Linked DNA regions of Homo sapiens: all the other regions are linked to region 1. Evidence: fine-mapped expression QTL. A gene starts in region 1. Each other region holds a variant in brackets. All regions are shown on one strand. Distances are between the middles of the regions. Region 1 holds the start of ESPNL (espin like). Region 2 overlaps ESPNL (espin like). Region 3 overlaps UBE2F (ubiquitin conjugating enzyme E2 F (putative)). Region 4 holds the start of SCLY (selenocysteine lyase). Region 5 holds the start of KLHL30 (kelch like family member 30).

Region 1 (5,954 bases):
ATGGCTAGATACTGACTGGGTCCCTAGTGTCTGCAAAGCCCCATGCTAGGTGCCATGAAGTTACCAAGTGGCTCAGGTGGGCCGCATGGGTAAGGCACTGTCTGTGTCGGCATCCGTGTTCTCCAGGACCTCAGACCCCTCAAGGACAGGAGAGCCCCTGGCCCCAGAGCTCAGTGCGAGAGGGAGGCAGTGTCACCTGGGAGTGCCAAGTGCAAGAGAACTCTGCAGGGAGAACGGGGGCGACTTTGAGCCACACCTTGATGTGGGTGATCTTAGGGGTGTGCTTGGTCTGGGAGTTTAGCAGGAGGTGGATGCCAGGCGAGGCAGGCGCACATCCGGGTGGGCAGAGCCCCACTAGGGGAGTGGTCCAGAGCAGGGGGGGCTGTGTCTCTTCCATGTGCCCTCAGCAGCAGCTGCAGCTCGGTCTCGCCCTCCCCAGGCCGTCCCCAGTGCTGCTGAGCTACGGTGTCCCCTTCGACGTGGCCAGGAACGCGCTCCGGCTCAGCGTGGGCCGCAGCACCACCAGGGCCGAGGTGGACCTCGTCGTGCAGGACCTGAAGCAGGCCGTGGCGCAGCTGGAGGACCAGGCCTAGCACTGGGGCCGCCTTCCCCACCCCGCTTCTGGGAAGCCCGTGGCAGGGCACAGGGTTGTCCCTCCAGTTCCCTCCTGAGGGCTGTGCCAGGATGACTGTCTCATGCCCCCTCTGCATTTTGTCCTGGAGTGCCAGCGAGTGTGCACCCCCAGTTTCCTTCCCTGGACCCCTGCAGAGCTCACAGGGCCCAGGACACCAACGCCGCATAGGACTGCCCACATGGGACCGCCCACATAGGACCGCCCACATAGGACCGCCCACATGGGACCGCCCACATGGGACCGCCCACATGGGACCGCCCACATAGAACCGTCCTCCAGTGGTGAAGCGGAAACACTTAGCTTTATCCACCCTCCCCACTGGGAACTGGGCACGCCTGTTGTGAGTGCCCTTTCCTGGAAGGTGTTTTTATCTGGAAGATAGAATCCAAGTATTTATAACTCATTGTCAGCCAAATGCTATCATGAACGTAGGAAACTTGATTTTTTTGTTTTGATCATGGCCTCTACATGCACCTTTCCAGAGTGGTCTCTTCTCAGGCCCTTTTTAGTCCCTTTCCAAAGCTGCCCCCACCACCCTGCTCCTCTGGCCTCAGTGCACAGTGGCCCCCAGCCTCGGCCAGGCCTGCTCTGCTCAGCGCCCACCGCCCACCACCCCTCCTGCTTCCCCGAGCCTGACCCTGTTCCGCCCACTGGCAATCAGGGCTGCGCACTTCCCTGTCCACGGTCCCCAGGCCTTCCTGTCTTGTCCCTTTTGATCATTATTAACTCAGGGTTTCAGCTCCAACCTCGCTGAGTTGGTGCAGCTCCAGGTCATTCCTGGGGTGGGAATCGGATCATCCCTGACTCAGCTTTTACCTTAATTTTATTTGCAGAGGATTCTTTTCTCAAAATGCTCTGGCATTTGGACACACATCACATGTCGATATTTGCATAGGAGTCATTTTCAGTGGAATAACATTTTTAATGTGTGGTTTTACGGTTCAAGGAACTACTTGATGATTTTGAGGAAACACTTGCCAGAAACTAAATTAACGAATAAAAGATTTCAGTGCCCGACTTGGGGATCCTGTGGTTTCTCTAGTGGGCACTGCGCTTGGGCACAAAGTCATCTGACAGAGCCTGTCGGGGGGAAGCCAGGGGTGCAGCAGCCCCCAGGTCACCATTGTGTGATGATGCGTTAGCCCAGAAATCCAGCTTGAGGCTGTGTCTCCGGAAGCCCCTACAAATGTAATGGGTCCCCCATCTGCAGCTTCCCATTGCTGCCAGGAAGAGGCTGTGGTGGTCCTGACTTCCCTAAAGAAGAACTATGGATTGTCCAGAACAATCTGGAAAGGGGTTAAATGTACTTGGGCCCTTGGGGCTGCAGCCCAGAGACTTGGTCCGTGTAGTTGGAGAGGGGGCCGAGGCAGGGGCTGACACCTTCTCGCCTCAGAGGCCTGGACACACCCAAGTCAGGGTCCTGAGCCCATTGCAGGCCCCGTGGAGCCACTGTGTCCCCAGAGATTCCTAGGAGCCTCCAGGGCCGAGGGCCGGGACCCAGAGGCGGGGCGCTCAGCTCTGTGGGTGTCAACACAGCCAAACATGTAGACCTACTGGGCACCCTTTACTTCAGACACACTGTGGTGGCGGCTGGGGGTCTGCCCTTCTGTGAGAGTTGGGGGAACTGTCTCCCAGGCCACTCGGGGCTCCTGTGAGAAGCTCAGTGGCGTGTATCCTCAGCCCTCGCTCCACAGATGAAGTTCCTGCCATCTGGACAGATCTGAGCAGCCTCAGGGCCAGCCTCCTTTCTCTGCTGGCCATACCCAGCCCTGACCTAGCCTGGTGTGGGCCTTTCCCTGTGCCCTGTACTCCATCCTCCCAGCTCCAGGCACCTGGCACCCTCACACTGTGGGAGTGGCTTGGGCAGGTCCTCAAGGCCTGTCCCCCCACCCGACCCCACCCCACCGCCTCCCATCTGCCCTGTGGCAGCTTATCGGGTAACCAGAGCCGGCAGCTTCATCCACGTCTGAAACAGGAAGCCCCAGCCTGTGCATGAGTCGCCACTGAGAGCCCGGGCCAGAGGATGGAGAAGCAGCGGGCACTCGTGGCCGCCAAGGATGGGGATGTGGCGACGTTGGAGCGGCTGCTGGAGGCTGGCGCCCTGGGCCCGGGCATCACCGATGCTCTGGGGGCCGGCCTGGTTCACCACGCCACCCGGGCTGGCCACCTGGACTGCGTCAAGTTCTTGGTGCAGCGGGCCCAGCTGCCCGGCAACCAGCGGGCCCACAACGGGGCCACCCCAGCGCATGACGCCGCTGCCACGGGCAGCCTGGCCGAGCTGTGCTGGCTGGTCCGCGAGGGGGGCTGCGGTCTGCAGGTGAGCGGGGATGGGGCAGCCTGGCTCCACGAAGCTGGCTGGGGTGGAACCAGGGAGGTGTGAGCCACGGAGGATCAGAGTACTGGCCACCCCGGGCTCCATGGCCCTGGGCCCTTTGTTTCTCTTGGGGACTCAGTCAGTGGTTACCGTCTCTGCCCCACGCCTCTCAGAGCACAAAGGCTTGAGAGCCAAGAACACCTCCTAAATTTTCTTATCACCTTCCCTGCCAGGAAGCTGGGCGTTGCCAGTGGGGGTCTTGCCAGATATCAGGACCCCTGTCTCTGATCAGGCCTGGTCCACAGGGCCTGCCTCCCAAAGGGTCTAGAAAGGGATCCTTACAGAAGCACTGTGGGAACTTGGGCTTGAGAGCTGGGAGCCTAGCCCTGGGGGACGGGAGTTAGGGCTGCTGATGGTGATCGTCTTGTCCGGATCGTTTCTACTGGGCCCCCCTCCCCTATCCTGCCTGCCCAGTCCCCTTTGTGCAGGCGAGGCCCTTAGAGCTGTCGCTCAGCCCTGTGGAGCTTTCAGGGCTGAGGGTGAGCAGGACTGACCGGCCTTAGAACGCCGCCGCCCAGAGGTCAGAGTTGAGGTGGGGGCCGGTGGGGCCTGCTTAGACTGCGGAGCGGGAAGGTTCCCCAGCACCTGGCTCGCCAGAGCACCTGAGAGTCCCGGCCCAGCATCCTGTTCCTGTCGGCCCTTCCGCCAAACCCAAGGGCAGCAGGCGGGAGCTGTGCCTGCCTGGGGATCCATTCTGACAGGGCCCTTGGAGAAGGCCCAGGTCTGCTGGACCCCTGACACCTGTGGTAGGAACGCTCCCTGGCCCCGGGACCCTGTGGCCAGCGGGAGGGCACTGGGGCAGGGGACCAGCCAGAGGTAGGTGTCCTGGGAAGCCTTTCTGACCATGAGCAGAGTGGGCAGGTGTCTGCGGGCACCCGACTGCGTGGGAAAGGGCCTTCTCCACACTGGGGACGGGCCCAGGAGAGGGCAGGGTTGCCAGAGGTGGCCTCCCAAGACCTGGACCTGAGTCCTGGCCCTCCTCTCACCTCAGTCCCAGCAGGGAGCACCTCCCTCCATGTTGCAGGCAGAAACGGAGGGAAGGAGGAAGGAGCTGGAAGCCCCTTCACTGGGTTGCAGGCAGTGTGAGCCCTCGCCCAGGGCCCACCTCCGGCAGCTGGCTCTGACCTCACGGCCTACCCCCCACTCACTGACCTACCCGGGGCTTGGTAGGACCAAGATGCCTCGGGCGTCTCCCCGCTGCACCTGGCCGCCCGTTTTGGACACCCAGTGCTGGTGGAGTGGCTGCTCCACGAGGGCCACTCGGCCACGCTAGAGACCCGGGAGGGAGCCCGGCCGCTGCACCACGCTGCCGTCAGTGGGGACCTGACCTGCCTCAAGCTCCTGACAGCCGCGCATGGCAGGTAAGGAGCCCAAAGTCCCGCCTGGGGGGGCAGCCTGGGGCGAGCTGGCCAAGGGGAGGCTGCACCATGGAGGGCCAAGAGGACAGGCTGGTGGCCTTTGAGGTGAATCCTGCAGGCGGGCATGCTGTCACTGTGGGGGTGAGCTGGCAGGAGCCAAGGGCAATGAGGCCTCTACCCACAGGCCAGGCAGTGGCAGTGCCATGCCAGGGCCCAAGGGGACACAGGCCAGTGCTTCAGCTTGGAGAGTGGCTGGGGGCGGTGACGATGGCAAGATGCTGCTGTGATGCCCAGGGCAGCTCTGGCCCCACCTGGGGGCATCTCGGGACCTAAAACAGCTGGGGACGTGGGCAGCTGGCAACCTGTGAGGGCACCCTCCCATCACCTGACAGGAGTGGGGACTGTCTAGTGGACTTGGGGACACAGAGGCTGGAGCTGCCTCTGCACTGCCCCACCCCTGTGCTGGGACCCCTAGAGCCGGGCGCTGGCCTCATCGTCTCTGGGGCCCTGTGCCCCCTGCTGGAATTAGTGGATGGGCAACGAGGAAGGACCAGGGTCAGGACAGCCAGTAAGGCAGATGGCCTCCCTCCCCACCTGGAAGCTCCTCCAGTCCTCGCCCTGCTTACAAAGGTCACTGTTGTCATAGGAACAGGCCCTCTGCCTCCTACTGTCTTGGCTGAGGGCGAACCTTCCTGTCCCCCAGGGACCCACCTACCTCTGACCACGGCTCTTCTCTTTTCGAGGCAGCATCTCATTTTCCTGTCGCTGCCCCAGAGGCCTCAGTCCCCCACACCCCCTTAGCTCCAGGACAAGCCCCGACAGCTTGCTTGTGGAATCGGGTTCTCATTCCCGGGTGTTCCCATCCTGGACTGCTTGGCAAAGGCCTTTGGGATTCGCTTCTGTGGCTTTTCTCCAGAGCGTCCACACCACCCTCAGCCTTGGCTGGCCACAGTCTCTCTCAGACCCACACGGCTTTTAAAGAAGTTTCCACCATTGAAAACTGGGAGACTTGGGCCGAGCACAGTGGCTCATGCCTGTAATCCCAGCATCTTGGGAGGCTGGGGCTGGAGGATTGCTTGAGCCCAGGAATTCAAGACTGGCCTGGGCAATGTAGCGAGACCTCCATCTCTACAAAAAAATTTATTTAAAAATTAGCCAGGCATGGTGGTGACTGCCTGTAGTCCCAGCAACTCAGGAGGCTGAGGTGGGAGGATCACTTGAGTCTGGGAGGCGGAGGTTGCAGTAAGCTGGGATTGTGCCACTGCACTCCAGCCTGGGCGATAGAGCAAGACCATGTCTCAAAAAAAAGAAGAAAACCAGGAGGCTTCATGTTAATATGCACACACACACGCACACACGCACACACAAATGGGAAGGTCCTGTACCCCCGGCCTAGTTCCCGCCTGGCATTGACCAGCAGCAGCCGAGAGGTGGCTGCCCCTGGCCAGACCATGCCCCCTCCAGTTGCCCCCGACCCACTGGCTGCATCATGGCCTGCTCCCAGCCACCGCGCTGGACACCACCTGTTCCAACCCTGGATGCAGTCAAGGACACCTGGCAGAGTCTGGTGAAAGCACGGATCCTCCCC
Region 2 (5,954 bases), 27 kb after region 1:
ACAGGCCCCATGTCAGGGCTGAAGTTCCAGGCGGACCACAGCACAGGAGTCAGGGCAGTCGGGGAGGGGGGTGTGCGGGAGAGTGTACGTGCGTGTGTGCAGGAGAGTACGTGTGTGTGTGTGCAGGAGAGTGTACGTGTGTGTGCAGGAGGGTACATGCGTGTGTGTGCAGGAGAGTGTACGTGCATGTGTGCAGGAGAGTGTACATGTGTGTGTGTGCAGGAGAGTACGTGCATGTGTGTGCAGGAGAGTACGTGCATGTGTGCAGGAGAGTACATGCATGTGTGTGCAGGAGAGTGTACATGCGTGTGTGCAGGAGAGTACGTGCGTGTGTGTGCAGGAGAGTGTACGTGCATGTGTGCAGGAGAGTACATGCATGTGTGTGCAGGAGAGCATACATGCGTGTGTGTGCATATGTGTGCACATGTCTTTGTGAGACCACAGGGCGCTGGGCACAGCTGGAAACCAGGCCCTAACCCAGTACCCGGAGCCCCAGAGCTCAGCTGCCTCCAGAGGGAGCCTGGAAGCTGAGCTTTGAGATGGGGGTGGCCCACCCAATAGAGGTGAAAGTGGGCGGGGAACCAAGGTGGGGTGCCAGGAAGTGATGGCACTCAGGCAGGAGATGACCCTGGGACAGAACCCTGATCAAGGACCTGCCCCTCTCCTGCCACCTCCTTACCTGTCCCAGCCCTTCTCAGATGCACAGGCTCCCCAAGGCTCGTCCACTGGGTGCCCCTGCCCCTGTCTAGGTGAGCAGGGAAGAGCCCACGGGGGTCCCCCACTGACCAGGCCCATTCACCCACAGGTGCCCCTGCTGATGACGCCCCCACCACCACCGTTCCCCCCACCTCCACTGTTGGCCACGAGGCGCTCCCTGGAGGATGGAAGAAGAGGAGGCCCAGGGCCAGGGAACCCCAGCCGTGAGTGCACAGCCCCAAGTGGGCCACCCAGGGCATGGGCCTGGGAGAGGGTGCCACTGGCCTCCCCTCCGAGGTCCTGGACCGGTGGGCAAGTCTGCGGGCAGCCGGGCACCCCATCACCCTCCCTCCCCAGTTGCTTCCAGGTTTCCTTGACTGTCTTTGGTGCTTTGGAAACATGAGGATTAGCATTTTCCGTGGTGGGCACTTACAGCTACAGCAACTTATCCAGGGGTAAAAGCGGGGAGACGGGCCGGTTGGGCCCAGGCCCCTTGTGGATGGGCTGCTGTCCCTCAGACCCCAGCACACCTCGCATGCATGGGCTAGCAGGGCAAGCAACAGTCCTCACGCTGTGGGCCACCACCATTAGGGGTCTGTGACCAGCTTGGAGTGGAGTGGAGTGGAGTGGAGTGGAGTGGAGTGGAGTGGAATGGAATTATCAACAGGTGCCACAGGTAGTGAGGGCGAGCTTCCTCCACGGGCCCTGCTGCGGCCCTGTACTCACATGTGGGAGTGTGCTTCTGTGTGTGATTGTGTCTGTGTGTTCTGTGTGTGATACACATAGATACGGGGACCCTTCTCTGTGTGTGATTGTGTCTGTGTGTGATTGTGTCTGTGTGTATCTGTGTATGTTGTGTCTGTGTCTGTGTGTCTGTGTGATTATGTCTGTGTGTATGTGTGTGATTGTTCATGTGTGTCTGTGTGTGACTATGTCTATGTGATTGTGTGTCTCTGTGATTGATTGTGTCTGTGTCTGTGTGATTGTGTCTGTGTGCATCTGTGTGTGATTGTGTTCGAGTGTGTGATCGTGTCTGTGATTGTGTCTCTCTGTGATTGTGTCTGTGTCTGTATTGTATGTATGTGTATGGTGATTGTGTGTTCTGTACATCTGTGTATTGTGTTTGTGTTTCTGTGCATGATTGTGTATCTGTGTGTGATTGTGTCTGTGTGTCTGTATGTGATTGTGTGTGTGATTGTGTCTGTGTGTGTCTTTGTGATTGTGTGTCTCTGTATGATTATGCCTGTGTATGTGTGTTTGTGTTTGTGTGTCTGTGTCAGTGTGTGATTGTGTCTATGTGATTGTGTGTATCTGTGTGATTGTGTGTCTGTTCTGTCTGTTTCTGTGTGTGATTGTGTCTATGCATCTGTGTGTGATTGTGCCTGTGTGTATCTGTGTGATTGTGTTTGTGTGTGTCTGTGATTGTGTCTGTGTGTATCTGTGTGTGATTGTGTCCGTGTCTGTGTGTCTGTTCTGTGTTTCTGTGTGATTGTGTCTGTGATTGTGTCTGTGTGATTGTGTGTATGTGATTGTGTCTGTGTATGCTTGTGTCTGTGTGTCTCTGCGTATGATTGTGTCTGTGTGTATCTGTGATTGTGTCTGTGTATCTGTGTGTGATTCTGTGTGATTGTGTTTGTGTATGTCTGTTCTGTGTCTGTGTGTTTCTCTGTGTGTGACTGTATCTGTGTGTGATTGTGTCTGCGTGTGTGATTGTGTCTGTATGTCTGTGTGATTGTGTGATTGTGTGTGTATGATCGTGTCTGTGTGTCTGTGATTGTGTGTGTCACTGTTATTGTGTGTCTGTGTGTATGTGTGTGATTGTGTCTATCTGTGTGTGATTGTGTATCTGTGTGTGATTGTGTTTGTGTGTCTGTTCTGTGTGTGTTTCTGTGATTGTATCTGTGTGTATAATTGTGTCTGTGTGTATGATTGTGTCTGTGTCTGTATGTGATGTGATTGTGTCTGTGTCTGTGTGATTGTGTCTGTGTTGTGTGTATGTGATTGTGTCTGTGCATGTCTGTGTGTGATTGTGTCTGTGCGTGTCTGCCTGGCTGTGATGCAGACGTGTTCTTCACTCGAGGTTGACCCTGAAGTGTGTGTTTTCATCGGGGCAGGGAGCATTGCAGGCAGCAAGGGAACCAGCTTTGGGGCCTGCAGAGCTGCGTTAGGGGCGGCCTCAAGCCCTTCCCAGCTCCTCCCCTGCTGCAGGAGGGGCCGCGGCGTGGCCCAGCGGTGTGCCGCAGGCTCTCCCATCGACCAGGCGGGGGCGGGCCCCACTGACTCCCCAGAGAAGGTCCAGTGGGGCCCCCGAGGTGTTCTGGGGCAGGGTGGGCTGGGGTCAGCTCCCAGCTCGCAGATCGTTCAGGAGGTCAGCTCTGCCCCCAGGGCCGGATCCCCGAGGCTCTGGGTCTCTGCTCCCCAGCCCTTGCCCTTTCTGCAACACCCTTCTTCTTCTTGGCAGCCATGTC[C/T]CTCAGCCCGGCCTGGCCTGGCCATCCTGACCAGCCTCTTCCCAGGGAGCAGATGACCAGCCCGGCCCCTCCGAGGATCATCACCAGTGCCACGGCTGACCCCGAGGTTCGTCCTCCACCCCTGCATTCCTGTCTCCCGGGGCCCCTAGCCAGCCTCCATTCCCATCCTCTTAGGGGCCCAGAGAAGCCCCCAGCACAGCCAGGCCTTTCCTGAAGGGTGGATGCCAGGCTGCCTGCGTCACTCCGCTGCTCTCGAGAACACCCTGAGTTCTGAAGAGACAGGAATGTCAGGGCGACGGCAGCTGTCCCCCCCACCACAGAAACACGGGGACCCTTCTCTGTTATCCCAGAGGGCTGCAGTGGCCCAGGCCCCTCTCCCTGACCTCTGAGCTCAGGGGTGCTCCGTGCCCGCTTGGAGTGCGGAGATCGCAGCAGCCATCCATGGGCAGGGCCCCGCTGCCACCGTCCTCCTCCTCAGGGCCTCGGCCAGCCCAGACCAGCAGAAGGGTCCTGCTCCCCCTTACTCTCCCTTTCCTGGGCGCCGGGCCCTTAGAAAGCCAGCCCAGACTTTCCCTGCGTGGTACTGCAGATTCTCAACCATTGAGGTGTTCGGTGGGAGTCTGGGAAACGCCACGTGGCGCTGCTGCCCGTCGTGGAGAGCTGGAGCGCGCACGGCACATTGAAGGCTCTGACAAGCCCTCCGCGGCACAGGATTGGCTGCCAGGCTTTGTCTATGTAGCTGTGCCCAGAGCAAGTTTGCCCAGGGATACGGTGCGCTCCGCGAGCATCTGCTGGGCTTGCACAGGGGACGGGGAGGGACCTCTGGTTTCATTTCTCTGCCGACAATCCCCTCACACACATCTTACCCCGCCCCCTCCAGTCCCTCCCCTCTGAGGCCTCACTCTTAAGCTGGGGATGAGGGGGTGGGGTGCTGTCCGTGGCCCCCACTGTCCCTCCTCTCAGGGCGCCCTGTTAGCGTGCCCTGGGCGGAGCCAACCCCCCACGTCCTCTCGGATCTTCCCTCCACTCAGGGCCTGGGTCCCCTTCGGGCCTGTGTGACCCACCCCCTTCTGCACAGGGGACAGAGACGGCGCTGGCGGGGGACACCTCAGATGGCCTGGCCGCACTACAGCTGGATGGGCTGCCCTCAGGCGACATCGACGGGCTGGTGCCCACGCGGGATGAGCGCGGCCAGCCCATCCCAGAGTGGAAGCGGCAGGTGATGGTGCGGAAGCTGCAGGCGCGCCTGGGCGCAGAGAGCTCCGCAGAGGCCCAGGTAGGCCCCCGGCAGGGGCGGGACCAGTGGGCGGGGCGGGGCCTTTTCCAGGTAGGTGGAAGTGGAAGTCAGGGCGCCCGAAGCCCAGAACTGAATCCAAGACCCAGGGGCCCCTCTCCTCTGTGGCCTCAGCTGCTGCTTCCGCCGGAGGATGAAGTGAACCTGACCAGAGGACTCTGAGCAGAGCCCCTTCACCTGCTCTGGAGGCATGGGTCCCACGTATCCTTCCACTTGGCGGATTTGTGGCACATGCCTGCCTGTGCCAAGCGTTGTTCTAGGCCTTCCTGGGCGCAGCGTCTAGCAGGGAAGACGGTGGCCCATGGGCAGGTGCCGGCAGGTGTGTGGGGTGCGATTCCCACTGCTGTGGAGAAAGCAAAGCAGTTGGGGGACTATGATATATGGGTGCTTAGGGGGCCCCCTCTGGGGACGTGGCCTTGAGCAGGGGCCAGAGGGAAGAGAGGGGGAGCCCTGTGGGAATTTGGGGCAAGCACCTCCTAGGCAGAGGGAACAGCCAGTGCAAGGGTCCTGAGGCCGGGCTGGCCGGGGGAGGAGCAGGAGGAGGCGCCCTGGCATGGAGTGGGCGCCTGAGGTTGGAGAGGAACCTGGCTGGGATTATTGCACCTCTGTGAGGCCGTGGGGAGCCACTGAGAATCTGAGCAGAGAAGGGCTGTGATGTGCCTTGGATTTTAACAGGCTCCCCGGGCTGCTGTGCAGACAGGAGTTCAGGAATTATGTCCTCAGAGTCCTATGATTTTGTCAAGATGATTGAGTTCTGTGCCCCCGGCCCAGCGCTGTGTCCAGCGCAATCCTGCCAGCCACATGCAGCCACTGAAATTCATTACAATTTAAGGAAAGTAAAAGTCCTGCCCCTCCGTCGCACCAGCCACCTGTCGTTTCTGTAGCCACAGGTGGCTCCTGGCTGCTGGAATACAGCCTGTCTCCATCGTCTCAGGACTGTGGGACAGCCCTGTCTGAGGGCCCAGCCTGTCCTTGCCTGTTGGGCTGGGAGCCGTAGGGGCTGAAAGCCACAGGGTTGAGAGCAGAGCAAGACGGGCAGAGCAGGTCAGGGGCTTCTGCCCTAGCTGGGAAGCCCTTTAAAGTCTTACCTTGGGGCAGGACCAGAGGCTCTGCAGAGATACTGAGAACTCAGGGACTTGGAAGCTAGGTGGGCTGATGGTGGGTGGGTGGGCTCACCCTGCTCACCCTGCCCTTCCTGTGCCCAGGACAATGGTGGGAGCTCAGGCCCCACGGAGCAGGCGGCCTGGAGGTACTCACAGACTCATCAGGCCATCCTGGGGCCCTTTGGGGAGCTGCTGACAGAGGATGACCTGGTCTACCTGGAGAAGCAGATTGCAGACCTGCAGCTTCGGCGCCGCTGTCAGGAGTATGAGAGTGAGCTGGGCCGGTTGGCGGCTGAGCTGCAGGCCCTGCTGCCCGAGCCCCTGGTCAGCATCACGGTCAACAGCCACTTCCTGCCCCGGGCGCCCGGACTGGAGGTTGAGGAGGCCTCAATC
Region 3 (5,954 bases), 60 kb before region 1:
AGCTCAGGAGGTGCTGCCTGACCATGGCCCCAAAGAGTGGGCAGGAGCACCTCCGACAGGGAGGCAAGAGAAGTGCCACCCAGCATGCATCCTGCTCAGACTCACAAAACAAGTGGCAGGCATGGTGGGCATGGGGAGTGGTGCAGTGCAACCAGGCGGGCAGAGCAGGCCATCTTCTGAGGCTGGTGTGCTGCCAAGGAGGCAAGCTCTGTCCTGAGGGCTGGAGCAGCAGGGGTCCTCAAGAGAAGTAGCAGGGGTGTGAGGCAGCCCTGTGCTCACAGCTCCCCATGGGGGCAATCAGTCCCCGACCCCTGCCATCCGTCGGTGGTCCTGATGGGCTTGTGTTGTCTGGTAAAGCCTTGGGCTTGGTACTGCGCTGACAAGCCCTGGGCAAATGTGCCCCTTGGCCCACCCCTTGCAGGCATTCATGGCGGCACTCCTGTCTGCTGTCGTTGGCGAGGACTAGCCCTTGTGGACCAAGCCTTATCAGATAGAAAGTGATGGCAATAGGGGTACTCCCACAGCTCCAGGTGGAGAGATGTCTTCCATTTTACCTTTCTTTGTATGAAACAAGATTTCATATTCCTGATTTGTATAAAATAGGACTTTGCAACTGGTACACTTTTAGCCCCAGTAAAATGGACCTAAAATCTCCAAACAGTGGTGCCTCCACATGAAGCCTAAGCAGTGCCGCCCCATCCCCGTCTCCGTGCGGAGTCATAGTCACAGCTGGTGAGCACCGCATCCTTATGTCCACTCGTTCATCACTTATTTGGCTGGTGACCACTTATGTGCCAGGGGAGGTGCAAAGTGCTCAGGATGACTGTGGGAATGACAGTCCTTGTCCCTGTGGCGCACACATTCCGGCAGGAGGAGGCGGAGCATAGGTGAACAAACACGGCCAGACACCGTGGCTCACGCCTGTAATCCCAGCACTTTGGGAAGCTGAGGCAGGCAGATCACCTGAGGTCAGGAGTTCGAGACCAGCCTGGCCAACATGGTGAAACCCCATCTCTAGTAAAAATAAAAAAATTAGCCGGGCATGGTGGCAGGCACTTGTAATTCCACCTACTTGGGAGGCTGAGTCAGGAGAATCACTTGAACCCAGGAGGCGGAGGTTGCAGTGAACTGAGATCACGCCATTGCACTCCTGCCTGGGCAGCAAGAGCGAAACTCCATCTCAAAAAAATAATAATAATGAAAATTAAAATTTAAAAAAATAGGTGAACAAACACAGCATGTGAGGTGGAGAGGGGGCCACAGAGGGCCGGGTGGTGAGAGAGGAGCGCTCCAGAAAACCTTGGCTGGCAGTGCAAAGGCCCTGAGGCAGGAATGTGCTGTGGAGCTCAGGGCAGAGAAAAGAGGCCATTATGACTGGTGCACATCAGAGGAATGGAATAGTAGGAGCCAGGCACGCTTCCATGCACTTGACACAGAGTGCACTTGTTTCTCACAACAGCCCCTTGGGGCAGATACCATCATGATCCCTGTTTTGCTGCTGAGGACACAGCTGCCAAGAAGCTGAGAATCACCATGATTGAGTAGCCCATTGGAGGCAGAGCCCAGGACTTGGACCCACCTCCTTCTGGCTCCAGAGTCTGTGGTTTTCACTTGGGCCCTGTGCTTTGTGTCCCTTGCAGTAGGAGAGGAGGAGGGAGGCAGCAGAGGCTGGAGCATGGGGCCTGCTGGAGCATGGAGCCTGCTGCAGGCATGGACGCCGGGCTCTATGCTGGCTGAGGTGAACAGGGAGACTAAGAGTACATGGCATCTTTTGTCCTCCAGAACATGGAGAGGCAGGGGGCATTTATGGGGTCTTCATTTTACATCCTGTAAGCTTTTGCAGGGTCCTTGTGAGCTGCCAGTATTGTCTGGCTCTGGGGATTGTGGAAATGGCCTTGAGAAGGTTTTGTAAAAGGGCAGGCAGGGTTTCTGCACAGTCCCCCTTTGTTGCGGGGTAAAGGCCCATGTGGGAGGCTCCAAACGCCATCCTGTAGACAAATAGGGCGGTTGGCAGGGCAGAGGCACCTGGGTAGACTCAGAGCACTCCACTTTCTCACCCTGAGACCAGAGCAAGTCATGGGACCGTATCCATAGCTTCAAATTGGGAACTTGCCCGCCCTGGAAAGGGTCGCTGTGCTAACTAAAAGTGTGGCAGGAGGGCAGGCACCTGGTGCCCAGCTGGCCAGGACCATGCTCCAGGCAGGATCTCCCTGCAAGAGGGCATCGC[G/A]GCAGCAGCGAGGTATACATCGAGTGCCAGGTTATACCCTGCACATTGCCAGGTGTCGGGATTATGCAGTGGAATCAGCAAACAGGTTAGACTGAGGCTTAGACAGGAGGACTGAGGCTTAGCTAAGGAAATGGAGCTCATGCCCACTAAGAACTATGGTAACTGTGCTGTGTTCCCTGGGCAGTGGGGGCTGCATGGCATTGATGGGACCGAAGCAGTGTGATCCTGCAGGGACATCTGAGACCCAGCAGCTGTGTTGTAGGAGTGAGAGGGTTAAGAGCTCCAAGTCATTCTTACGGCTCATACAGTCCCATGGGATTTTACTCCTAACCTTGGGGAGACCAGATCCAGGGACAAACCTGACAGTGGCCCAGATCCGAGAAGATTGTTCCACCCATACTGGCCTGGGGTGATTCCTAGGTCCACACCGCCTTTGGTCACTGTCCACCTTCATTTCAATGCATGAGGATGGAGCTCTGTGGCACACCCAGCTCTCTTCTGGGCAGGGTGGTCATCCTGCCCAGAAGAGATGGGGGCCTGTACATGGGCTGTGAAGAGCAGGCACATTTTAAGTAGGTAGCAGCATCCAGGGAAATCATTCTAGGAAGACAAATCCAGAAACAAGGGTCTTCCTGAGAGCAGCAGCTGTGGCTCACATCCATTGTGGCCAAAGGAGTCTTGGCTTTGTGACCTCGACCACACTTTTCTGGGCTCCACTTTCCCCATCTGGAAAATGAGAAGGGATAGGTACCCCCTTAGGGTCCCTTCCACTCAGGCCTTCCACGTGCTCCCCCCTCAACATACCCAGCACTGTGTCTTGCGTGCAGTAGGCACCCAGGTCGTGGCGAAATGGCACTCAGACTCCGCAAGGTCCCAGTCCTTCTACCACCTTGGCGACCACAGGGGACCTTGGTGCTGGTGGATCTGACTTGTCCCTGAAGCGCTGCTTCACTCACTCACTCACTCCTCCTGTTCTTCTTTCTGTCCCCAATGCTGTTACTCCACAGGAGGACTTCCGGAATAAAGTGGATGACTACATCAAACGTTATGCCAGATGATAAAAGGGGACGATTGCAGGCCCATGGACTGTGTTACAGTTTGTCTCTAACATGAAACAGCAAGAGGTAGCCCCCTCTCCCGTCCTCATGCTCCCTCTCAGTCCCCTGGATTGCCCCAGTCCTGTGACCATGTTGCCCTGAAGAAGACCATCTTCATGACTGCTCATTGTAGATGGAGAATTCAACATAAATACAGCAAGAAAATGTGTTTGGGCTTCTGAAGAGTTGTCTGCTTACCTTAACATGTTTACTTTTTTGAACTTGTACTGTATAGGCTGTTGGTGAAATTCTTAAGAAGTTGTAATGAACTCAAAATTGAGGCCAGAGCTTGCTTTCCCTTTTCCCAAACAAAATTGGTTTTCTGCACAAGCGATGCTAATGATGTGTTCAGTGTAACTCGCAGATTGGCAATAAGATACCCGCTACAAACTGTGATTGGATGCAAAATCTCTTAGCTTCTTTCACGAATGTTGGCCCTGCCTAGATGTTGTGAAGCCTCCCAGAATGCATAGAGTCATTCACTGTAGATCTCTTATTGAAATGCGTATTTTATTTAATGTAAGTATATTTTGGAACAGATTTGTAATTTGTACAATTCAATGCTTTAATTATTTTTTCTATTCTCATTTAGTTTGTATTTTCATTGTATAGAGCAGACAGAAAGATGTTGGGTCAAGCAACTATTGAAGAGAAATACAAAGAAAATATGAAAGGCACATTATTCATTTTGTCCAAATGCAATGAGAATCTCACTCTTAAAAATCAGCTCTTGCTTTCGGGTCCGGATGTGGTGAGCACATTTTGGAGCCCTTTGAAGCTAGATTTGGATGATCAAAACAAAAAGGCAGGGAGCCCATTCTAACATGCTGCCCAGAGGAAACTGGCTGGAGCCTGGACCAGCTGGGGTTGATGCTTTTGCAGTGGTCATGTGATTGTGACCTGGTAGCTACTTATCAGAGAGCCAGACCCTGCTGTCCTGGGAGACAGGAGCGATGCCTCAGGAATCAGCCCAATGTCTGATGTCACTGAGACTGTACCTGTGGCCTTCTTCTGAGTTTGCTATGGCTCCAGGCCCTGCCGGTGGGGTGAGCCTCCTAGGCCTTGGAGGACCAGGAGTCAACAGTGGCATATGCCATCCTCGGCCAGGTTAATATACTGCAGAGGAAAAGCCCTGAAGAGAGGCAAGTGGATTTACTCCAGCATGTAGACATTTGAACCAGTGAAATCAAACACAAAATAAATGTCTGTCTAGTTTCATTTGCTGCCTGCCTAACACTCTCAAACTTAACTGCCAGCTTCCTTAGACCTCTGGATTCCCCCATCTGCCATCTACTGGGTTTAGTTTGTTTTTCTTAATTTATAGAATCTCTGATTGTGAGATCAGTCTGTCACGGAGACCCAGCAGGTGAGGAATGTAGGCCTTGCTTCCTCTTTGCACCCATTAGACTTGAGGGTGGCCCCTGGCTAACAGGCCACACAGAGCAGGAAGGGTGAGATTGGTTAAAGAGAATGATGGCATCTCAGGAGCTCAGGGCTTGTCCAGGAGACACATTAATCCCCACCTCTCAGGGCCTGGGAGAGGGAGGTACTGCAGCTTCACACTTTTCCTCTGCCTAGTGTCAGAGGAACTTGCCAGCTGAGCACTAGGCTTCCTCTCTAGGCAGGGCAGGAGGCCAGCAGCTAATTCCTGCCCCCTCTGACCCAGGAAATGAGGTTCTCTGCTTGGTGCCAGTCCCAGGCCCAAGTCAGGGCACATCCCATAGTAGTTGTTCGGGCTCCCTGGAGTTCCCCAGCTGGTGGTGCAGGTGTTGATGCAGGACTTTTCAGAAGAGCGCTTCTGTGGGAGAAACGCCTGCTGTCCAGTGGAAACGTTTATGCAGTGTACATGAAAGACAGTGTGCCCTCTGGACCACACTGAAAGTGGTAATATCAGTTATTCTGACATCAAAGTATCTGCACAGTAGAAAAACACTTTGCTCATTATCAGGGATTAAGCAATTCTTTCAAAATGTCCAGATAACTGAATCATCCCATTCTGTCTAGTGGAAATCCCCCAGAGATATGTTGCGCACACACACCCCATCTTAGGAGCACACTCAGATGCAGCCCATCGCAGTAAGCAGCAGCTGTTGTCCTGGGTGCTTGGCCAGTGGGGCCCTTGGGATCTGTTGGGTGACTGTGGGACCCAGTTTCCTTCCAGACTTTTTGAATTCTTAGCATTCCCCTCCCTCTTTCACAGGCCAAAGTCACATTTCTGGCTCCAGCGCATGTGCCCCCAACCAACCGGGTACTAGTTGGTGATTTCTGATCTGTCAGGGAATGGGAATCCCTATACTCGGCCAAAAGGCCAGTCCTGGAAATAGGTGAGAGTGGGCAGGCCCTTGGGGAAGTGAAGCTCTTGGGAAGCTCTGACATCCAGTTGGACATCCAGAACCTTTGCTTCCTGAATCCTGGTTCTTGGCTGGACTCCAGAGGGTCCTTATGACTATTGCTTAGAATTTGATGCATAAGCTGTATGTTTTTCAAGCACTCCTAGAAGGAAACACTTCCAGGGTAAGCCTCTCAGAGGAAGGCTCACATCTTACCTCTGATCTTCCCCTAAATAATCACCAGCAGGTGACCATCTCTTTGCAGCCTTTCTACTAAGGAGCCAAGGCAAGAGTATTACT
Region 4 (5,954 bases), 39 kb before region 1:
AACTCCCTTTAGCCTATGAACATGTTCAGTCTCTATTTGCTCTTAATCTTTTTTTTTTTTTTTTTTTTTGAGACGGAGTCTCACTCTGACTCCCAGGCTGGAGTGCAGTGGCATGGTTTCAGCTTCACTGTGTAACCTCCACCTCCCAGGTTCAAGTGATTCTCTTGCCTCAGCCTCCCCAGTAGCTGGGATTACAAGCATGCACCACCACAGTCGGCTACTTTTTGTATTTTTAGTAGAGACGGAGTTTTGCCATGTTGGCCAGGCTGGTCTCGAACCCTTGACCTTAGGTGATCCACCCACCTCAGCCTTTCAAAGTGCTAGGATTACAGGGGTGAAGCACCGCGCCCAGCTTGCCTGTAATCTTATACGCCTTTTTAATTCCTCCTTTCTCAACCGTTTTAAGAGTTGACTGCATTCTTCATTTTTTCATATCCCATCTTTGCATTCTAACTTCCATGCCTCTCCCATCACTGAGACTTCTCTCGCTAGTTTATCAGTGCCTCCTAATTGTTACGCACAGTAGACTTCGGATTGCCTCTCAGCCACACTTTACACTATTATGTGTCTTCTTGACTTTTTTGACATTCCTTCTCAATTCCCTTTCCTTTCCTCCTCTTTTGACTGTTCTCATGCTCCTGTGCATCCATTTGCTTCTTAAATGTTGGTGGGCCCTTTGCTATTGGCTGCATTTGGCAAGAAATGAGCTGCGTTTATAGGGAAGAATGAGAGAGAATGAGTCCAGAAATTTGCAGATTTGCTGTGCTGGAAAAGCCAAGTTATTCTGGACCCCAACAGGACACAAAATAGAGAAAGCCCATGAAAAGCCAATTAAAATTCAACCTCTTGGCAAAGCATGCTTGAAACCGAATTTTGGCTCCAGCCACTACTCGTGTGAACTTGGGCAAGATGCCTTTCTGTATCTTGGATTCCTCATACATAAATACCTACCAGACTGGGTTAATCATCAAGATTAAATTAGTGAACACACGAAAAATACCTAGAACACTGCCTGGCATAGTTCAAGGCTCAATTAAAGGTAGACACTATTATGCCAAAAAAACAAAAAACAACAAAAAAAGTGACGGTAGGATGGCTTCGTGAGGATTTTTGCTCATTTCTACCACTTTCTCAACTGACTTTTCTTAATGGTTGGCGGGACACCAACCATTGGTGGATGTTTACACTTGTGACTGTCTCACAGACAACTCAACATGTCCAAAGCTAAACCCATCATCTTTCCCCCTCCCGTCTTCCCTCTTACCCAGATAAAGGCACTAACATCTTCCCAGTCACTTGTCTAATCCTTGCTTCCTTCCTGTCCCTCATGCCCCAATTCCTATTTAACGGCCTAAACAGATCTTGAATTAATCTTTCCTGCGTTTCCACGCCCACTTAGAGTCCCTCATCTCTGGCCCTATTTTCTCAATGCCCTCCCATCCTCTACTCCAGATCCCCTCAAGTCCATCCTCGATGCGTGACTCTTAACTTCACGCCATCCAGGTCCCCTATGGAGCCGCTCCGACTAACGGACGCGCAGGTCCAGCGGACCTGCTCATCACTGTCCAGGGTGGCCTGCGGGAGACCCCCGGGGCCCTGGCCCTGCTGCCGCGGCCCCGGCACTTCCCCTCGAGGGTTCGCGGGGAACAAGGCCGCGCGGCCCCGGCTCTCCCGGAGTGCACGGTCCCGCGCTCATGCGGCTAGAGGGAGGCACCCGCAGGACTGCCCAGCCGCCTCTGCTCCTCAGGTCCAGCTCGGGCCCCGCCTGCTCTTACGCCGACTAACCGGCCGCGGCCCGATGGCGGCCCTGCCGCAGACAGCAAAGGTCACGGGGCTCCCCCGGAAGTGAAAGTGCGGGGATCCGCCGGCCCAGGAGACGCGGCTTCTAGCGCCCGGTTCCCGGGAAGCTCTGTGACGCGCTAAGCCCCGCCCCCACCCGTCACCTGACCCAGCGCAGCCTCGCCTCCCCGCTGGGGGCTCGGCGGCCCTCTGAAGCGGGTGGATTGGCTGGGGTGCTTCGCTCAGCCAATCCGGACGCGCCCGGGCGTCGCGGCCCCGCCTCCTCCCCGGCGCTCTGGGCCCGTAGCGCTCCGCGGGAAGGAGGCTGGATGCCCGGCAGCAGTGGGGCGGGGATGGAGGCGGCCGTGGCGCCGGGGAGGGATGCGCCGGCACCCGCGGCGAGTCAGCCCAGCGGCTGCGGGAAACACAACTCGCCGGAGAGGTGCGCGCCTTTAGGGCAGGGCTGGGGAGCGGCCGGCGCCTGTCGCCGATTGTCCCGCGCGGGAGGACGAAGGGGGCTCCCGGCCTGTGGCCGCTCTCGCGTGGGGCGTCCCGCGCGGGGATGTCCGCGAGGTCGGCCTAAGTCAGGGATGCGAGCTTCAAGGAGGAGCGGGTGCGAGCTGTGGCCCCGCAAGGGCCCACGGAGAGGTGACTTTGGGGCCGAAACCCGAGTGACTTCCAGGGGTGAGGTTTGCAGGTTCTGGGGAAGCAGAGCCTGCCAGGAAGAGGGCACAGCAGATGCGAAGGGCAGGGGACTTGCCGGAGGTGAACCGGCAGAGCCCCTGAGCCCGGGAAGAACTTTGGGGTTCATTCGGAGCCTTATGGGGCCTCGGAAGTTGATCACGGGGCGATGCAATTTAAGTGTTTTGAAGGAGTCCTTCTGGCTGCTTCCTAGAAAGTAGGGGCGCGGGTAGGCATGGGACGAGAGGAAGCCGGGAAGCCAGTTGGGGATCTTGTAACAACCTAGGAGAGAGATGTGGTGTGCGCCCAGAAACGGATGCGTTGGTAGGAAGCTGGTGCACTGGGGCAGGTGAAAGGGAATCAAGGGTTCTCCCAGACTGCTGGCCCAGCTGCAGGAAACGGGATGGCCACCGCTGAGAAGCGCGGAGACCCGAAGCACGTGGTATCCATACTAGTTAAGTCCGAGAAGAGCAGGAGGCAGGGGTATGCATTTTCTGGTTTGTGTGTCTTCTTTCCAGACCCCTCTTTTTCCTTTTTGTGAGCTCATTCGCTACCCATGCTTAGAATATGAGGGGGTCCAGGCCTAAAGCACACACATTTGGCATTCTACCTTGGTTGGAACAAAGTGAAGGGATCTGGGAAAATATCCCCTAGGGAATCAGTGGAGCGAGATTCCCAAGATTTTTTATTTTTTGGTTATGAAGCTAACAAAGTTGAGCCTGCTCATCCAATACTGATAGCATTTTAAGGAAGCAGCAAATAATGAAGCAAAGGAATGTGTAAAGTATTAATCTGAACAAAATAGATTTGTTCAGCCCAGCAGCAGATTGAAGAGCTACAGTCGCTCAACAAACACTAGCTAGCCTAAGGTACTTTGGATGCTTATTTATAGGAAAGAAAAACAGATATAAGGGCACATGCAAAGTCAAGCCGGGCTGGGGGATTCCTAGGACTATTAATACTAGTACCAGAGTGGTAAAGGATGGCGAGTCAAACTTGTCAAAGCCTTGTACCTATTGAGTGATTTTTTTTTTTTTTTTTAATTGAGATGGAGTCTCACTCTGTCACCCAGGCTGGAGTGCAGTGGTGCAGTCTTGGCTCAC[T/G]GCAACATCCACTGCCCGGGTTCAAACGATTCTCCTGTCTCAGCCTCCCAAGTAGCTGGGATTACAGGCACGTGCCACCACGTCCAGCTAATTTTATTGTATTTTTAGTAGAGATGGGGTTTCGCCGTGTTGGCCAGGCTGACCTTGAACTCCTGACCTCAGGTGATCTGCCCGCCTTGGCCTCCCAAAGTGCCGGGATTACAGGCGTGAGCCACAGGGCACAGCCTGTTGAGTGATTTTGAACAGAAAAGATGCTTCATTTCAACTAATGCACATTCTGTCCACACTCAGTGGCTTAACAGCCACAGTTAGTCATTGTATCTGGGTTTTCATGTGGATTGGTGTAAGCACTGTTTATTTAAAAACTAGATAAATTAATATCAGGCAGGACTACTACTACACATTTTTCTAAAGGCTTTCGAAGGTTTTGGATATTAGTAAAAAGATATACAGATAAATTTTACTTAGTGAGGGATCTTTCAGGGAATTTGTACTTTCTGTGGCATTTATTTTGTCATCTTATAAAAATCAGGCCCCTGTTGTGTGGCAACCATGGGCTTCAACATTGGTGACAGGGCAGTGAGAAAAACAGAGCCCCCATGCCCATGGAGCCATACTTCTGTTACTCTATTAAGGTAGACAGTAAGGGAACAAGTCTGGTATGTCAGATGATGATGCTGCCCAGAAAGGAAGGCGGGAAGGGGACCTGGAGGCTGGGGAGGTAGGGACATAGGTGGCTGCAGTTTTGTGGGTTTGTTTTTTTTGTTGTTGTTTTTTTTTTTTTTGAGACGGACTCTCACTCTGTTGCCCAGGCTAGAGTGCAGTGATATGATCTCGGCTCACAGCAACCTCTGCCTCCTGGGTTCAAGCAATTCTTCTGCCCCAGCCTCCCTAGTAGGGCTAATGTTTGCATTTTTAGTAGAGATGGAGTTTCACCATGTTGGCCAGGCTGGTCTCAAACTCCTAACCTCAAGTGATCCACCTGCCTTGACCTCCCAAAGTGCTGGGATTATAGGCGTGAGCCACCGCGCCCAGCCAGCTGTAGTTTTAAGCAGAGCTGCAGGGCAGGGGGTCTCACAAGAGGACTAAGTTGGAACAAAGACCTAAAAAAGTAAGGTGGGGGCAGGGCATGTAGTCTTTCTGGGCAAAGAAACTGAAAGTGCAAGGTCTGGGGCCAAAGTTCACCTGCCCCAGGGAGAAGCCCAGGTCACTAGGAGCCCCACAGGCCATCGCAAAAATGAGTGTGGGGAAATAAGGCGAACCTCTGATGAAGTTAAAACAGCAGACAGGAAAGTTCCCTTGGGGAATGTGCAGCTGTTCCCCTCCTTCCATAAGGAAGAGGCCAGTGATCTGCCCTTTACAGCAGTCAGATGGGTAATCTGGGCCCAACAGACCATTAATCCTACCAAGGGGTAGAAAGAGTGTTTGTTATTAGAGACTGGGTCTGGCTGTGTTGCCCGGGCTGGAGTGCAGTGGCTATTCATAGGCACCATCATAGCTCACTGCAGCCTCAAACTTCTGGCCTCAAGAGGTCATTCCGCCTCAGCCTCCCACATGGCTGGACTACAGGCACAATCCACTGTGCCTTGCTAGAAAGAAATTTTGAAAACCGAAATGAAAATCCAAGTCCTATCAATTATAAAAGAAATTGACAAAAACTAGAGTCTTAGAAATTATGCATGCATTTTCCATAAGTAGTGTAGATCTGTAGATTCCCAAGTGCAGCTTGTGGATGCCTGCAGTGCTTATGCAGAGGATCACCATGCCCTTGACATTATTTGCTCCTGCCGATGGGATAGACACAGAGCAGCCATATTTCCCATATGCCATCTCCTTTTCCTTAATGGGTGTCTTTGCTTTCTTTCCTTCAGGAAAGTTTATATGGACTATAATGCAACGACTCCCCTGGAGCCAGAAGTTATCCAGGCCATGACCAAGGCCATGTGGGAAGCCTGGGGAAATCCCAGCAGCCCGTATTCAGCAGGTAATTCTAGAAGATGCACGTGTTCACTGATGGGAGATAATGGGGATGGGGCGCTCTTAGAGAAATTGCACACCCACACGTGACGGCTTTGTTTTGAATAGGTTTCTGTTAGCTGCAATTCTTGAGCTGTAATTTTTGATAGTTTCTTTTCTGGGAAGGCCCCATTTGTAAGCTGAGCCTTGTCGATACTGTAATCTTTAACCTTTAATGTTTAATCTTTAACATGCTGTCCTGTCACCCTTTCCCAGATGAGAAAGGTGTCTACTGAGAGTTCCTTGAAGTAGCAGTCAGTACCTGTGGAGCACTTCACAGATCTAGCTCAGTCAATCCTTACAGAATTTGCAAAATATGTCTTTTAGGTCATCAGGATAACATATAATCCTGGCCCTTTTTAAAGATGAAAATTA
Region 5 (5,954 bases), 41 kb after region 1:
TCGGTGTCCTGGCCCTGGGCTGAGGGTCTCTGTGACCCCAGGCCCCCACCACGGGCTCCACTGTACTCAACTTGTAGACGAGGAAACAGGTGGGGAAGCTGCATCCCTGCCCCCACCAGCCAGCCCAACCGCGACAGCTTTCACCTGTCCTTGCCCTGGAGCCCTTCCTGATGTCTGTCCTAGGCCACAAGTCCCTGGAAGGCCTCAGTGGGCTTTCTGAGCTAACAGTCACCAAGGAGCCGGCATCTCACTCCTTCCCCCACCAGCCCAGCCCTCACTGCCTGACCCTCCCCTCGCCCTGCAGACAGAGGCTAAAAATACCCTCCCCACGTGGCCACCAGACCAGCCCTGCCCCGCCCTGCAGGCCTCCGTGTCCCCTGGCTGCCGGCTAGGCAGTCCTGCTCTCTCGGGTCTGTGTTCTCAGCTTCGAGGTCCAGGCTGAGTGAGAGGTAGGATCCAGGGGGCTCTGGGGCAGGGGACAGCAGAGAGGGCAGGGGGAACCCAGCCAGGAGCAGCGGGGAGGGTGGGTTAGGCCCCCGAGGCCAGGGATCACAGCAGGGTGCTTTGGAGACGCCCCCTGGCCCTTGCCAGCGGCCAAGCCAGGCTCCTCAGGGTGGGGGCTCAGGAGACAGGTTTCCCTCCATGTCCCAGCCGGAGAGGTGGGAGGGGGAGGCTGGGCCACCCCTCAGATGGCAGCCAGGGCCACTCAGCCACAGTCGCCAGCCTGGCTGGGCTCAGGCCTTTTGTTGTCCTGCCCACTCGGCTTCCTCACTCCGGGCCTGGGCAGGCACTGGGGTGAGGCTCTGAGACCCTCAGGAAGCCCCGACCCATGCAGGGACTGCAGGGTGACAGGTGTCAGCAGGCACCCCGAGGCCCCCAGGGGAAGTGGGGGCGCTCATGCGTGCCTGCCCATCGCCCGGCAGCAGCTGGCCCAAGGGAGCACAACAATGACGGGAATGTGAGGCCTGCAGGCGGTGGCCCAGGGACAGCCCTGTCACCTACTCAGGCCCCAGCTCATCTCCCGGCTGCCCAGGGAGGGCAGAGCCGCCTTCACCGGGGCCAGCGCCTCCTGGGGAGGGGCCAGGCAGGAACCCCATGCATGCAGTGTTGGGTGGGTACTTCGTGTACCGGCCGGGATGCTGGGGTGTGGGGCCCCGGCCACGTGAGCTGCCCTGTGCGCGAGCCCGGGTTGGTCCGCGAGGCCCTGTGGGCTCCCAGGTGCTTCCCCGCTCTGGGGTCAAGAGGTGGCACCGGGGTCGGGAAGTCGGGGAGCCCTAGCTCCCATCGCCTGCACCTGTACCTGCACCGTGGCTGCCCGGGCCAGATTCTTGGCCTCCTGGTTCTCCAGCTGAGCTTTGTCATTTCCATGCGTGGCGTTCCCACGCATTTTGTACCTGTGGACGCGCGGCCGCCTCTCCTGCCCGGGATGGCCCCGCGAGGCGCCCCCTAGCGGGCGAACGGCCTCTCCGCTGCGCAGCCTTTCGCCCTGGGGTGACCCGGGTCGAAGGCTTGTGCACAGACTTGATCTCTCCTAGGGATGGTTGTCTTAGGGTGCGATACCAGAAGGACATAAACCACATGCACATAATTACATGAGCCTGAAAGCGGCCTTGCTGACTTCAACCATGCGGGCGTGGTGACGCGAAACCCTCCAGAACGCTGCCTTTGGCTGGCCGTTTCTGTTTAGCAGCCTCCACCCGGCCACGTGGAATGCAGGGTTCAGAGCCTGGGCCCCCAAGCCTAGCTCTGAGTTCAAATTCCAGCTCCACCACTTCCTAAATGTGTGATCTTGGGCAAGTGACTGAAACCTTCTGTGCCTCAGTCTCCCCAGCTGTAAAAGAGGCAATGATTGCACCCACCCTCCAGGACTGTTGTGGGGCTGAGTGGTGAATGCACAGCTTCTCTGCATGCTTGGCACGTGGCCTGGCACCTGGGAGCACCGCGGGAGCAGGAGCTGCTGCAGCCCCCAAATGGCCTCCCCAGCAATGTGGGATCTGGGACGGAGGACGCCTCCCGGGAGTTTGGGTGTCTCCGGGGTCCCTGGGGGGTGGGCTCAGTGTAGCCCAGGGTTGCAGATGACACCCAGGGCATGGGTTCTTTTGCCAACCCTGTTCTGCCCTGAATGCCTGGCCATGGGTAGGTCTCCCACCCTCTCTGAACCTCAATTTCCTCACTGCAAATGGGAATGACACCTGCCCTACCTTGCAGGGTTCTGGGGGTGGCTTGAGGCAGATGGGGGGTAAAGTGACTGGCATATGGTCGATGCCCATCCTGTGTTTATCAAGGGGTGGAAAGGGCTGATGGACAGACCGGGTGGGTTGCTCAGGAGGATGAGACCATCCCCACTTGGCTGACCCTGCTCTCTTCTCTCCTAGGAGCTCGGGCGGCTCCAGGCACTTCTTCCCTTGAGTGGGTGGACTACTGAGGTCCCCTGGGCACGGCGTCATGGTGCGGAACGTGGATGACCTGGATTTCCACCTGCCCTCGCATGCCCAGGACATGCTGGATGGCCTGCAGCGCCTGCGCTCTCAGCCCAAGCTGGCCGACGTCACACTGCTGGTGGGCGGCCGGGAGCTGCCATGCCACCGCGGCCTCCTGGCGCTCAGCAGCCCCTACTTCCATGCCATGTTTGCGGGTGACTTCGCCGAGAGCTTCTCTGCGCGCGTGGAGCTGCGGGACGTGGAGCCCGCCGTGGTGGGACAACTGGTGGACTTCGTGTACACAGGCCGGCTGACCATCACGCAGGGCAACGTGGAGGCGCTGACACGCACGGCTGCGCGCCTGCACTTCCCCTCGGTGCAGAAGGTCTGCGGCCGCTACCTGCAGCAGCAACTGGATGCCGCCAACTGCCTGGGCATCTGTGAGTTCGGGGAGCAGCAAGGGCTGCTGGGCGTGGCTGCCAAGGCCTGGGCCTTCCTGCGAGAGAACTTTGAGGCTGTGGCACGTGAGGACGAGTTCCTGCAGCTTCCCCGAGAGCGGCTGGTCACTTGTCTGGCCGGCGACCTGCTGCAGGTACAGCCGGAGCAAAGCCGACTCGAGGCCCTGATGCGCTGGGTGCGCCATGACCCGCAGGCCCGGGCCG[C/T]CCACCTGCCCGAGCTGCTCAGCCTAGTGCACCTGGACGCCGTGCCCAGGCCCTGCGTGCAGCAACTGCTGGCCTCAGAGCCCCTGATCCAGGAGTCAGAGGCATGCCGGGCAGCCCTGTCCCAGGGCCATGATGGGGTGAGTGAGCGGCTGGGAGGCCCCATCCCTGGGAAGCAGGGAGGAGAGCCCCAGAGACCCCACCTGAGTAGGGACAGAGTAAGGAGTGGACATTCCAAGGTGCACTCTGACCTTGCCACGCTCCTTGTTTTGGGCCAGTTCCCCATGAGGACATCACTATTCAGCCCTCAAGTGCAGATCATGCCTCTGTGTGTGTCACGCCCTGTGTGCAAGGGGCAGGGGAATGTGGAAGTGGTAAGATCTGGCCCTGTCCTGAAGGAGCCTGCAGCTCAGTGGGACAAGCCTGGAAACAGACCTCAGGCAGTGTGGAAGGGCCAAATACATGCCTAGGACGCATTCTGGGTGGGCTGGCAGTCAAGGAGGGCTCTCTGGAGGAGGCAGCATCTGAGCTGGGCCTTAGAGGAGGGATAGGAGCTCACAAGGAGGAAAAGAGGGGAAAACCATCCAGGAAGGAGGTGCAGCTTGTGCACAGGCAAGGAGGCACAGACAGGCCTGGCAGTCCGCCTGAGCTTTTATGGGGTGCTACTTCCTGTTTGTGCTGGCAGTGTGCCTGGCAGGCATGGCAGGTCATGATGGAATGACAGGTCTGGGAGTGGCTGTTCGGTCAGCTGCCGGGCACCCTGCTCAGGGGCCTTGCTTCGGGGCACTCCTTTAGAGCCAAGTCCGGGGACAAAGAGTGGCTCAGACTGATGGTCCTCAGGCCAAGGGTGGAGTGAGTAGTGGGCTAAACCCTAACCCCTGTCCCCACTGGATTCCAGCCAGTCACAGAGCGCCCGGCCTCCTGCTGGAGCTGGCTTCAGAGCCTTGCCCGTGGACGGTCACCTTGTATTCTAATTCCTGGCAGTGGGAGATCTGGGGGTTCCATATGGGGGGCCAGGGTGGATGGCTGTGGGAGAGCCTGGGGTCCTGGGAGACCTAGGCAGTGACTGCTTACCGGCCGTTCCTAAGACAGCCAGCATTTCCCACTGAGCCGGGACACCCTCGTGCCGCCTGCTGGAGGCCACCCAGGGAGCAGGGGCAGGGAGAAGCTTATGCGTGGCGCTGCGGACCTGCTATGGGATCGGTTCTGAAGATGGTTCAGGAACTCCAGGAATGCCCCTGAAAGGCACATGGTGCAAGGAGGGAGCAGCTTGTGCACTCGGGCACACGCCATCTCCAGCAACATGCAAGCACACATGCACTCACATGCTGAGGCCTGCCCAGGACACGCGGGGGCTCAGGGCATGGGGACACATTGCTGTTGCCCTGACCCTGGCCTCCCACCCCACAGGCACCACTCGCCCTCCAGCAGAAGCTGGAGGAGGTCCTGGTGGTGGTGGGCGGGCAGGCGCTGGAGGAGGAGGAGGCAGGTGAGGAGCCCACCCCCGGCCTTGGGAACTTTGCCTTCTACAACAGCAAGGCCAGTGAGTACCCCTCCCGCGTCCAGACCCACCTGCTGTCTCTCTGTCCCAGCGGGAGCCGCTGTGTCCTCCTTGCAGGTGGAGCGCATGAGGCTCGCAGAGGACCGGGAGCTGTGTGAGGCCCCTGTGAGGGGCGTGCCTGGGTGGGCCTCACCTGGGGGCTGCAGAGGAGCCCGAGGTACCCCGGGAGGGGGAAGGCTGGCGGGCACTGCTGCTCCCTCTCCCTGCAGCCGGAGCCCAGGACTCTGGTCCCTTTTAGGCCCTGGAGCCGGTGTACAGGCCTCCACGGCCAAGACTGCACCCTGTGGGGTGGGCGGCCTGGCCGCTGCCTCCTCCCCATGCTCCCTGCTCAGTGCACCTGCCGAGGGAATCGAGACCCCAAGGGGAGAGTGGGGTGGGGGGTGAAGGGGTGCAGGCAGCTGGAGGAGCGAGAACTCAGCTTCTGGGTCAGCCCAAACGGGGTTGTAATCCCGGACCTCAAACAGGTGACCTCACCTCTCTGAGCCTCAGCTTCCTCATCTGTGAAATGGGCTCCTGCTGCTTCCTCACACAGTTGTAGGGAGCCCTGAAGTGGGCACTGAGGCCAGGTCTGCCATTTGGCGGGAAAGGAGGCATGAGGGGCCCCGCAGCGGCTCTGGAGGCCCCCTGCGCTGGCCCCAAGAGGTGCTCTGGAAAGGGCTGATGCAGGCTGGCTGGTGTGGGGCCACCAGGCAGGTCGCCAACCATCTCCTTGGCGTCAGCGGCTGGCAGGCTCCAGGAAGCCTGAGGCCAGCTGTTCGGGTCAGGGGCTGAAGAGAGGGGGTTTGGGGCTGACATCAGGAGGGAGCAGCTGTCTCTCAGACCTGGCCGGGAGGTGGGGACGCTGGCAGGAAGAGCCTGTTGACGGCTGGGCAACCCCCACCCTGGGGTGACAGAGCCATGAGTCATGGGGACACGGTGCCTGCCCACAGTGCCAGGCTCTGCTCCCAGGGAGGCCTGGAATTCCGCATCTCCCAAAAATGGTCATAAATAGTAAACAGAGTCTTCCTAGGGGACATCCCAAAGGCCTGTGTCTCTTCCACAAACATCCAAAATATGTCCATTTATAGGACTTTACCATTTCCACATTTATTGTCTTGATTTTCCAAAGCATTTTCTCATCTCTTGCCTCAGTTTACCTCTTGTAGCTCCGAGAGGCAGGCCTGACTTGGGCACATTGCTCTGCCCCACGACCCTAGGAACAATAATCCTAACAGCTGTCATCAGCTGAGCAGTTCTGTGAAGTCCCCATAGCTCCCGGGAGGCTGGGGTCATCCCCATTCTACAACAAGGAAACTGAGGCTGGGGTTTGCCCAC

What was found.
Region 2: its variant is fine-mapped to the expression of ESPNL in esophagus muscle (GTEx, PIP above 0.99). The same link has a PIP of 0.9 or more in adrenal gland, aorta, atrial appendage, breast, esophagus mucosa and fibroblasts.
Region 3: its variant is fine-mapped to the expression of ESPNL in whole blood (TOPMed, PIP 0.93).
Region 4: its variant is fine-mapped to the expression of ESPNL in whole blood (TOPMed, PIP above 0.99).
Region 5: its variant is fine-mapped to the expression of ESPNL in subcutaneous fat (GTEx, PIP above 0.99). The same link has a PIP of 0.9 or more in liver and lung.

Annotation. Positions count from the first base shown.
Region 1 is chr2:238,097,763-238,103,716 of GRCh38, forward strand. It overlaps ESPNL (espin like), which reads left to right and starts at 2,578. Exons shown (of 9, transcript NM_194312.4): 1 at 2,578-2,951; 2 at 4,179-4,369. The coding sequence starts at 2,658. SCLY (selenocysteine lyase) reads left to right here. Exons shown (of 12, transcript NM_016510.7): 12 at 440-1,651. The coding sequence ends at 593. It overlaps UBE2F-SCLY (UBE2F-SCLY readthrough (NMD candidate)), which reads left to right. Exons shown (of 19, transcript NR_037904.1): 19 at 440-1,651. RefSeq lists enhancers at 1-422, 423-1,091, 726-1,020, 4,786-4,955.
Region 2 is chr2:238,124,465-238,130,418 of GRCh38, forward strand. ESPNL (espin like) reads left to right here. Exons shown (of 9, transcript NM_194312.4): 6 at 806-920; 7 at 3,158-3,270; 8 at 4,243-4,440; 9 at 5,664-5,954. Among named protein-coding and RNA genes, the nearest start is that of KLHL30, 11 kb to the right of the region's middle. RefSeq lists a silencer at 2,941-3,000 and an enhancer at 5,900-5,954. The variant C/T (reference allele first, on the strand shown) is at 3,165.
Region 3 is chr2:238,038,054-238,044,007 of GRCh38, forward strand. It overlaps UBE2F (ubiquitin conjugating enzyme E2 F (putative)), which reads left to right. Exons shown (of 10, transcript NM_080678.3): 10 at 3,235-4,729. The coding sequence ends at 3,285. The region is part of intron 7 of UBE2F-SCLY (UBE2F-SCLY readthrough (NMD candidate)); the gene reads left to right. Among named protein-coding and RNA genes, the nearest start is that of SCLY, 20 kb to the right of the region's middle. RefSeq lists an enhancer at 1,729-2,229 and a silencer at 4,655-4,847. The variant G/A (reference allele first, on the strand shown) is at 2,228.
Region 4 is chr2:238,058,923-238,064,876 of GRCh38, forward strand. SCLY (selenocysteine lyase) reads left to right here and starts at 2,079. Exons shown (of 12, transcript NM_016510.7): 1 at 2,079-2,221; 2 at 5,435-5,547. The coding sequence starts at 2,133. UBE2F-SCLY (UBE2F-SCLY readthrough (NMD candidate)) reads left to right here. Exons shown (of 19, transcript NR_037904.1): 9 at 5,435-5,547. RefSeq lists silencers at 1,489-1,698, 1,839-2,288. The variant T/G (reference allele first, on the strand shown) is at 3,564.
Region 5 is chr2:238,138,310-238,144,263 of GRCh38, forward strand. It overlaps KLHL30 (kelch like family member 30), which reads left to right and starts at 359. Exons shown (of 8, transcript NM_198582.4): 1 at 359-449; 2 at 2,376-3,219; 3 at 4,490-4,622. The coding sequence starts at 2,446. RefSeq lists an enhancer at 2,615-3,128. The variant C/T (reference allele first, on the strand shown) is at 3,083.